Regions from separate parts of the Homo sapiens genome. Here region 1 is linked to region 2. Evidence: fine-mapped expression QTL. A gene starts in region 2. The other region holds a variant in brackets. All regions are shown on one strand. Distances are between the middles of the regions. Region 1 has its middle 18 kb from the start of PAQR9. Region 2 holds the start of HLMR1 (hepatic lncRNA metabolic regulator 1).

Region 1 (5,381 bases), 18 kb before region 2:
TGACTGCCCAGGCAGGCAACCTTGTGGAGGGGCAGTCTGAAGTTCCTTAACAGTAGGGAGGAAAAAGCGGGACTTCCAAGGTAGGGATGGGGGATTCTGACATTCCAGTGGTCACACACACACACACACACACACACACACACACAACTCAGAAACACCCTGGTCACCGTGAGACGATCTCCAAGCTGTAAGGGTTCCCAGAAAGGACCGTTGGAGAACCATGGGAGAGCTGAGGGGAACTGGGCACAGGCTGTCAGGAGTGGGGACAGGCAGGAAAATGGCTCGGGCTGGACTCCCGCAGGCCGATGCAGGCTCAGATATGCTGCCTGCGGGATGTCGTGCTTTCCAGGCGCGGGAGGCGTGGCAGGGGCCGGGGCGCCTGTCGGGCGAGGCAGCATCTCCTGGGGCAGTCCCTGAGCTCCTCGGTCGCGGGCAGGTAGATCCGACACAGCTGGGCGCAGGCGGCGGGGTCGGCCTGGGAGTCGGCTTGGGTCTCAGGGAGAGCGCGGGGAGGCCAGCATGGCAGGGCGCTGCGGCCTCGGAAGGGGAGCCAGGCAGGCGCCGAGAGGACACGAACTCGAGGCCTCCAGCGGCGCAGAGGAGAGGGAGTAGGCGCCGGGCTGGGCACGCCAAGGTGCTCTAAGTTCCCGCCTGCCCCTTCCTCCTCCTGTGGCTTCTTGTGTCTTGCATGGGCGGATCTGGAGTGGGTTCGACTTCTCGCGCCGTTATTTCATCCTCTTATCACCTTAGGCAACCTACTCTGCCTCTCATCTTCCATTTCCTCATCTGTAAAATAGAGCGGGAAGTATTTCTTACTTCATAGTGGTATTGTCAGAAGCGTTTGAACCAGAGCAACTCCATCTTGAATAGAGGAGGCTGGGCGAAATAAGGCTGAGACCTACCAGGCTGCATTCCCGGGAGGTTAGCCATTCTAAGTCACAGGATGAGACAGGAGGTCGGCACAGGATACAGGTCATAAAGAATTTGCTGATAAAACGGGTTGTAGTAAACAAGCCAGCTAAAACCCACCAAAACCAAGGTGGCAAAGGGAGTGACCTCTGGTCGTCCTCACTGCTACACTTCCACCAGTGCCATGACAGTTTACAAATGCCATGGCAACGTCAGGAAGTTACCCTATGTGGTCTAAAAAAGGGAGGCATGAATAACGCCCCCCCCCCCACGTTTAGCATACAATCAATAAATAACCATAAAAATGGGCAACCAGCAGCCCTTAGGGCTGCTCTGCCTATGGAGTAGCCATTCTTTTATTCTTCTACTTTCTTAATAAACTTGCTTTCACTTTACTGTATGGACTTGCCCTGAATTCTTTCTTGTATGAGATTCAAGAACCCTCTCTTGGGGTCTGGATCTGGACCCCTTTCCATTCACAGCATGAGGATACAATGAATGGATGTAAAGCAATTTTGCCCCGCACCTGGCGCACCATAACTGTTCAGTACATTGTAGCTAGTGTTTTTATTAGCTCAAACTCTTTAATTTTTGTAGAAACGGGGATCTCACTTTGTTACCCAGGCTGGTCTCGAACTCCTGGTCTCAGAGAATTCTCCCACCTCAGCCTCCCAAAGTGCTGGGATTACAGACAAGAACCACTGTGCCTGGCCTAGGTCAAACTCATAACACACCCAATCCATGAGGATCCAAGGGACCTGTGTGCAAGAACTGGATTAAGATTTTCTCTTTAGACCAGTGATGTCCAACAGAAATATAATGTAAACCATGTATGTATTTCTTTAATTTTCTAAAGCCACAAAAAAGTGTAAAACTGTACAAACAATTGGATGAATTGAATTAGTGGAATTATAGGTGTTAACCATGTTAATTTGTTTCAAGCATGAGATAGTGACAGGGTTGTAGTGCTTATACTTAGATTGAGTGCTAGAAATGTTGGTAATGAGGAATCCAGCAAAGATACTGCCAATTGTTAGGTGTTTAATTGATTTTAGTAATGTTTTCTTTAAGCAACTATATCCAAAATATCACTTCAACATGTGACATTAGCCACATTTCAAGAGCTTCAGTCTCCCCTGTGCTAGACAGCACAGCTCTAGATATCTCTTCCCTAAGATCTCTGTGATACGGACAAGAGACAGGGAAATACGGGGTAGAAGAGAATGGTTCCCCAGCAAAGGCCCTACCCTTAAGCCTGGAGACTCTCAGCCCTAAGTAGGAACAGGCATTTCTGTTACCTTTTGGCCCACGATGCTCCCCAGTCCTGTACCCATAGAAACCCCAAACCCCGGGCTCCAGAAGCAGATGAGCCAACAAGGAGACGGGGAGACAAGCAGACAAATGGCATAGCAGAGAAAAAGAAGAGGAGGAACATCTGAATGCCAAGAGTTCAGCTGGGAGTGGTCAGAGAGGAGTTCCACTGCTGAATGGCCAAACTCCAGGGGACGATCATCTTCCCACTCCATCCCCCTTCCACCTCCCCATCCATCCTACTGAGAGCCACCTCCACTACTCAATAAAACCCTACATTCATCCTTCAAGCCTGTGTGTGACCAGATTCTTCTGGGATGCTAGGCAAGCGCTCAGGATATAGAAAGCTGTCACCCTGGCCCTTTGCCCTTGCAAAAAAGTAGAGCATCCATTGAGCTGGTTAACACTTAAGCTGTCCATGGACAGCAAGGCTGAAAGAGCATTGTAACACCGGGAGCACAGGCACCCACCCCTAGACACTACCACAGGGCCAGAGCCCAAAGCACTTGCCCTGGCTCCTGCACCTGCCCGTCTGCATGCTGCCATTCCTGTCAGGGGTTTGAGCAGTGACAGTAACCAAACAGGCGAGCCACAACCCTGCTGCACATCCTGCAGGTGGATCAGAGAACTCTCCCATTTCATATGAATGCCCAGCTCCTTTCCACCGTTTGGATCTCAACTCAAATGTCACCACCACCTTTGACCACTTATCTAAAGTAGGTTCCCCTTCCCCTTCTCCAGGAGCTGTGGCTCCTTCCTGTAGTCCCAGCTACTAGAGGCCTTGAGCCCAAGAATTTGAACCAGGCTGGGGATATAGTGAGACCCCTATCTCTAAAACAGAAAGAAGAAAAAAACAGCTGCAGTTGCCTCTGTCCCCTTCATGCCCACATA[C/T]ATGTACATTCACCTGGCTTCACCCTGTTTTACTTTCTACACACCATATATCACCACGTGAAATTCCGTTGCTTATTGTTTCCCTTTCCTTGTTAGAACCTAAGTTCTCAGGCTGCAGAGTGAGATCCTCAGCACCCAGCACAGTATGTGGCACATTATAGGCACTTATTTAATATTTGCATGAATTAATGAATGAACAAACGAATACATTACTAGACGTGGGAGTCCTTGTTGGAGGAAACAAGTTTGATATAATATTGCCCTAGTTTCTAAAAACGAAACCTCCAAACAATGAAAAAAGCAGCTTCATTTTCTATTTATGTCAATACTGCCCCAGTAACAGTTAAAATCAATGTATCAGGAAGTATTCTTTACTTTCTGTTTGTGCTTCTGAGTCAGGAAAGTAAGTAGTTTTGCCTTCCGATAAGTGAACAAAATTAGAAGAATTGATATTTGCATGTTTTCTGGGATATGAAATTCTCAAGTCCTTATTAAAAAAGGTAATTTGAAAAAGTTGGGATAGGTTTTCCTCAACCCTTAAAATGAAACTTTTGGTTGACACTAGAGCTTTATTGCTGGCAATGACAAGGCATTTGTTTACTAAAAGTAACATTGTTTCACATTTATCTTGCCAAAAATAGATGCTACCTACTCTATAGACAGAACTACTCAATTTTGACCAAGAAGATATCTCAGCATTGTGGGAATAATATTAAATTTGAACAGTACAAAGGTTGCATAATAAGGGGATATGAAAAGAGTCTTCTATACATTTGATGATTAATCAGGCAATAACAAGTGACTCAACTGCTACCTTTATGTCTAGGTTTATAAACTTGACTCTCCCAACTGTGGTATCATGAGTGTCAGATGTTCTTCAACAGCCATTTATTTACTTTATAGATTGTCTGAATTGTATGCCAACTCAAAGATTTAAGATTTTTAAAAATTACCAATAGTTTTTAAAATAAAATTTAATACATAAAAATATTAAAATGAGCCCAAATGGTGAAGACCCAACTTATTATATATGTGTTGACTCTTATTAAAAAGAAAGGGGATAGATGGCCTAGCATAAGTTATCTATATATTCTCTGTTGAGGTCATTGAACAATAGGGTATTCTTGATAAGTAAACATTCAGGCTATGGGTCAATAACAATAGTTAAAACCTATTTCTGGGTAAGCAACACAACTAAGGCAATGAGTGTGTTTGTGATACCAGTTCAAATGAATTTGTTTGATGTTATAAAATGGTTACTAAAATAGTGGTTGCCAAGCCTGGGTTCACAGTACAATTACCTAGGGAGCTTTACAAGACGGCTGATTGCCAGGCTCTATCCTCAGAGATTCTAATTCAGGCAACCTGTTGGGGCTTTGGAACCTGTAGTTAGGTGACTCCAAAGATCAGCCAGTTCAGGGAACCCTTGCAGCAAGATTGTCCAAGTGTTACTAGAAGTAGATTCACCAGGATGCCAAAGAGGCTCAATTTTCAGGGCCTTTCATTTGCATGGGTCTCTTCCAAAGCACCGTATCTAATTTTATATTTGTAATTTTGTATTCCTTTTCTTTTCTTTTCTTTTCTTTTTTTTTTTGAGACAGAGTCTCGCTCTGTCACCCAGACTGGAGTGCAGTGGCACTATCTCGGCTCACTGCAAGCTCAGCCTCCCAGATTCATGCCATTCTCCTGCCTCAGCCTCCTGAGGAGCTGGGACTACAGGTGCCCGCCACCATGCCCAGCTAATTTTTTTGTATTTTTAGTAGAGATGGGGTTTCACCCTGTTTTGCCAGGATGGTCTCGATCTCCTGACCTTGTGATCCACCCACCTTGGCCTCCCAAAGTGCTGGGATTACAGGCGTGAGCCACCATGCCTGGTCTTGCATTCCTTTTCTTAAAGAGGGCCCCCTAATTGTAAAGAGCTCAGTCCCCACAAAACCTGAATCTGCTCCTGGCCATAAAGTATACTGTAGTCAGAAAACTATAACTCCCAGGCAAATCTGGCTCTCTGCCGGCTTTTGTACAGCCCACACACTAAGAATAGTTTTTACATTTTTAAATGGTTAAAAAAAAAGAAGAGTAATACTTTATGACACATGAAATTACTTGACATTCAAATTTCAGCATTCATAAATAAAGTTGTATTGGCTCACAGCCATGCTCACTCATTTATGTATTGTCTATAGCTGCTTTAGTGCTACAATGGCAGAACTGAGTAGTTGCAACAGAGATTGTATGGTCTGAAATGCTTAAAATATTTACTATCTAGGTCT
Region 2 (5,381 bases):
TTTATTATTTTATTTTTCATTTTTATTGGAATGATTACATATACGAAGTTCAATAAAATAAAAATCTCTCTCAGTCCATTTTTCTTTTTATTCATTTCATTATTATTACCAAAAATAATGCTGTATGGAGTAGTGGGGTGTTAAAAAATGATCTGCTCGACAACACCAGTCACACAAGGCACGCCCTGCTTCCTTGCAGATCCTCAGGAGAGCTGCCCTGTCTGAGAACACTGCCCTCTGCTGCTCGGTGTGAATTCACCCATGAGGCTTATAAACAGAGAATTAACCCTCACTCTACCTTAAACTTACTCTTTTATTCAGAGAGGTATATCTAACTACAGTGTCAACTTTGTCTTGGTTCACACAGATCCCCAGGAACAGAGTGAGCAATCAACACATTTTTGTTGAATGAAAGAAGGAATGTGATGTTACTTTGCACATATTGGAGAGTGCATGCAAATGTGTTAATATGTCTGAGTATTGTGTGCAAGTGTGGGTGTTCACAGCACAAAATAGGCTGGTCAAGAGTGAACATCATATATTTTACTTTTCTTGCACCCACCCACCCCCCGCCCCCCACCACTTCCCAGCCGTGCCAGAGACACTACAGATGCAGACTAACAAATTGACTTAGAAGGTCAGGACTCAAAAGCCTATTCCAAAAATATTAAGAATGGCCAAGAAGTTAAAATCCAATCAAATAAAATCCCATTTTTTAATTCTTTTGTTAGCACACTAGTTTTTTGTGTGGTGGAGGAGAGGTTACTCATTAGAAAATAAAATTCTAAACTTATAACAAGATACTATAACTGATACTAATCTTTGCCAACTGTTAATAATTTCTTTCTCATTCTTGTAACTGATGCCCGAAATGCATCTAATATATAATTCCGAAACATTTTAATTACCATTATATTTAAAGTAAGAAAGGAGGGGGAAATGTAGCTTTTAAAGACTCTGAGCAGCTCACCTAAGATGGCCTTTCAAAGATAAGTGATATAAAACATTAAAGAGCCTAAAGCTTACATAGTCCAGCCTTGGTGTGTAAATAAAGGAGGCAGAGCCCAGAGAGTATAGGCTTGTTCAGAGTCTCACAGTGTGAGGGTATAGCCAGGACCAGAAGCCTGCAATCCCTACTTCCACCCCAGTCTCTCATCCTACACAGCACAGCTTCCAATGTAGAAGAAAATGGCTCTATCTTTGTTTGTTATATCAGATTGTTTAAAGTATTTAAGATATGTGCTTTAGATATCATTACACTGGCAGATAACAATATACAGAGTAATAAGAATTTGAAGATAACTTTGAGAATCACTTATTATAACACATACATTAACAAGAGAGAATGAATATTTACTAAGTATCTACCACATCCATGGCACATGGCTATTCCCTATAGAGACTACTGAATGAATAAATGATAGCATGAACTTATGTAACACTCGCCATAAGCCAGGTTGGTCTAAGTGCTTTACATTCATTAAGACGTTTAATCTTCACAACAACTCTGTGAATATCTGTTATTATCACCATCCCCAGTTTACAGATAAGGAAATTGAGGCACAGAGAACTTCACCAAGATCAGGCAGCCAGCAAACAGAACTTTACAACTTTGGTCATCTGACTCCATGGGCTATGCAAACTATGATCTACCTCCCATCTTAAGGAACAGAAACATAGGAAAAGGTGAATGGTAATGCGGATTTAAATAACAGTTAATGACAACTATAATGGACAAAAGGCAATATCCAAGAGGCAAGTGAATAGTATAAGTCAGAACTCTTTGCGTGCAAGCACCAGAAACTAAATTTAAAATCTCTTAAGTTATCTCAAAAGCTATTTATTTGCTGGCAATAGTAGAAGGCATTGTGGGCTGAATTTTGTCCCCCCACAATTCATGTGTTGAAGTCCTAACTCCCAGAACCTCCAAATATAACCATATTTGGCATAGGGCCTTTAAAGAGGTAATCAGGGTAAATTGAGGTCATTCGGATGGATCCCAATCTAATCTAACTGGTGTCCCTGTAAGAAAGTGAGATTAGGACAAAGACACACACAGAGGGAAGGCCAAGTGAAGGCACAGAGAGGAGGCCTATATGCAAGCAAGAAGAGAGTTTCCAGAGTGAAACCAACCTCCATGACACCTGGATCTCAGATTTCTAGTCTCCAAAGTCACAAGGAATTAAATTCCCATTTTTAGCCACCCAGTCTGTAATACTTTGTTAATGCAGCCTGAGCAGAATAAAATAGAAGAATACTGGGTGTTTCATAGAATTAAAGAGTTACAGGAAACAGTCGGAGCCAGGAATCTCAAGGACTAGAACAAGGACCTCAACACCTGCAGAATACACACACTATCCTCCCCACACTTCCAGCTTCAGAATTTAAAAATGCCAAGGATGGCCTCAACTGATCCAGTTGAGGTCGCATTCCCAACCCTAAGCCAATCATTTAATTCTCCTAGTTCAGTGATGCATCTCTACCATCCTTCGCCGGTCTGTGTCCCCAGATCCTCCTGTGGTTGAGTTTCCCAAGAGAGTAAACCTGGTTTCTGCCAGGACAAGAGAGAGGCTGCTGAAAGATGAGGAAGGAATCCAGAGGTCTGACTGCTTTCTCCAAGGACTTTCCATAAACCTCCTGTTTTCAGCTCCGCCTCTTACCTTTTCTTTCAGAAGAATCTGGTGCCTCCAATTCTGGGGACTTTACGGGTGCTGTGCCATGAACTAGCTTCCTTCTTAAGCTCCCCATCTGCTGGTACTGCAGTTTCAGCCCCTGTCCATGTCCATCTCCAAAAATGAGATGACATGGACTTTTCACCTATTCTTTCTGTCTTGTGGACTTGGGCCTTTTTGGCTTCTTTGCTGTCATTTTAGTAGCATTTTGAAAGAGATGAAAGAAAAACACAGGTTTTTAAACTGCAATGTTTAACCAGAAGTCTATTTTGGGAATTTTCAAATAATCCTCTGTGAAGGTGCCACAGTGGCTTACTTCTGGCTTGGGAAGGTGGCAGTAGCACAGAGGACAGACAGGAGAGCAGACTAGGAAAAGGGTAGGCAGGCTCTGGCCTCTGCCCCCGCATCAAGCAGAAAATCTTGCTTTTTATGTTTTATACATTGTCCTTCTAAGATTTCATTTGAAGAAAGAGACTTTAACTAAAAATAGAAAATCTTAAAACCACTGTGCAATACCAGCCTGCCTCCTACATATTTTAAAGAGTTTAAATTATGGTGTACATACATGTATTCTGGTTTTTTTTCATTAGATTGTGTTACAAACATGTTTCCATATTTATGTGGCTTTTTCATCATCAGTTTCTTAACCTAGTGCCTGGCACATGATAGGCTTTTAGTAAATAGTGATTGATTGAATGAATGAATTATATTTAACAGCTGCTTCTAATTTATTTGTAATTACAGAGAATAAGCTCTTCCATTCATTCATTTATTCACCCAACACATATTTATTCAATACCTATTATATGTCAGGCATTGATGGATGGTGCTGAGAATACAGGAATGAGTAAGGCAAACCGTCCTTTCCACACAGAGCCAACAGTCTAACGGGGGAATCTGACAAGTGAATTGACAATCACAATATGTATAAAAGCTATGGGAAACAAAAAGCATCTACAGGAGCACATCATAGGGGTCCCTAATGCAGACCTGAAAGTTGGGGAAGTCTCCCTGGAGGAAAAGACTTAAAGTGAATCCTAAAAAACTAACAAAACAGTTTCTGGTTCAGCATGTAAGAAATTTGGAAGTTGCCACTCTGTCCTAATGAGTAAAAAGCTGAACAAACTGAAAAACCAAATTAGCCAGGCATGGTGGTGCACACCTGTGGTCCCAGCTACTCGGGAGGCTGAGGCATGAGAATTGCTTGAGCCTGGGAGGTGGAGGTTGTAGAGAGCCGAGATTGCACCATTGCACTCCAGCCTGGGTGACAGAGCGATATTCTTGTCTCAAAAAAAAAAAAAAAAAAGCAGTGAAAAATCAACAACTCTTCTTAGCTCTATAAGAGAAGTGATGGCACAGGACAAATTGCTTCCCCCAAAATTGGGAAGACCAACAGGCAAATACAGAGAATCACAACTTCAAGAGCAGAAACCTCCATGGGAACCAGTGCTGGCACAGAAAAGTCTGAACTTGTAACTGTGAATTGCTGGAGCCAGTTCTCAGACAAGTGTGAACAAGTCTGAGAGATAAAAATCCAGGGGAACTGAATCATAGAGAGGTCCCCACACTTTTGTGGGTTTTACCTCCAGGAGCACTACCAGGTCTCACAGTGAATATTAGGGAAAAAAATCCCCTCCTGCTTCCAGCAGTGGGAGGGGAAAAGGAGCCATTTTGAAATATGCTAGAGCATTATGTTCTTAACAAGGTCTGTCCTCAGGAGAAACTATGTAACCAGAGCCTGACCTGCTGGGGTTAAATATCCAACTCAAGTCCATTCCAGCCATCCTGTCCCACCTAAGGTGAGGTGGGGGAAGGGACCTAGAGGCACATGAAGTTCACAATCCAGAGTAATGGGCTCACTGAAAGACTGAGGAGAACACTTCCTCTCCCCACAGATCTTACCACCACCTAACTAAAGGCCTGTTGACAGCAGTTCCTTTTACCCAGGACACGTATCATTCCTGCTATCCAAAAAAGAAAAACAAAAACAAAAACAAGACATACAAAAAAGAAAAAAAAACCCACAGTTTGAAGAGACAGAACAAGTATCAGAACCAGATTCAGATATGGCAAAGATGTTGAAATTATCAAACCAGAAATTTAAAACCACTATGATTAATGTGCTCAGCTTTAATGGATAAAGAGGACAGCATGCAAGAACAGATGGGCAAGGTAAGCAGAGAAATGGAAATTCTAAGAAAGAACCAAAAAGAAATGCTACAGATCAAAAACATTGCAATAGAATTGAAAAATGTAGGCTGGGCATGGTGGCTCATGCCTGTAATCCCAGCACTTTGGGAGGCCAAAGCGGGCAGATCATGAGTCCAGGAGTTCAAGACCAGTTTGGGCAACATGGCAAAACCCCATTTCTACAAAAAATACAAAAATTAGCAGGGCATGGTGGCATGCCTGTTGTCCGAGCTACTTGAGAGGCTAAGGCAGGAGGATCACTTGAAGCTGGGAGGTCGAGGTTGCAGTGAGCCATGTTTGCCCCACTGCACTCTAGCCTGGGTGACAAAGTGAGAACCTGACTCAAATAATAACAATAATAAAGAAATGAAAAATGCCTTTGATGGGCTTATTAGTAGAATGAGCATGGCTGAGAAAAGAATCTCTGAGCATAAGGATATCTCAGTAAAAACCTCCCAAACTGATAAGCACAGAGAAAAAACGACTTAAAAAAAACCCCAGAATCTCTAAGAACTCTGA

What was found. PIP is the estimated chance that this variant, and not a neighbour inherited with it, causes the effect.
Region 1: its variant is the best candidate, but not a certain one, in a credible set for the expression of HLMR1 in liver (GTEx, PIP 0.88).

What each region holds. Positions count from the first base shown.
Region 1 is chr3:142,942,605-142,947,985 of GRCh38, reverse strand. No RefSeq gene overlaps it. Among named protein-coding and RNA genes, the nearest start is that of PAQR9, 18 kb to the left of the region's middle. The variant C/T (reference allele first, on the strand shown) is at 3,112.
Region 2 is chr3:142,924,176-142,929,556 of GRCh38, reverse strand. HLMR1 (hepatic lncRNA metabolic regulator 1) reads right to left here and starts at 2,882. Exons shown (of 5, transcript NR_038455.1): 1 at 2,661-2,882. RefSeq lists an enhancer at 96-390.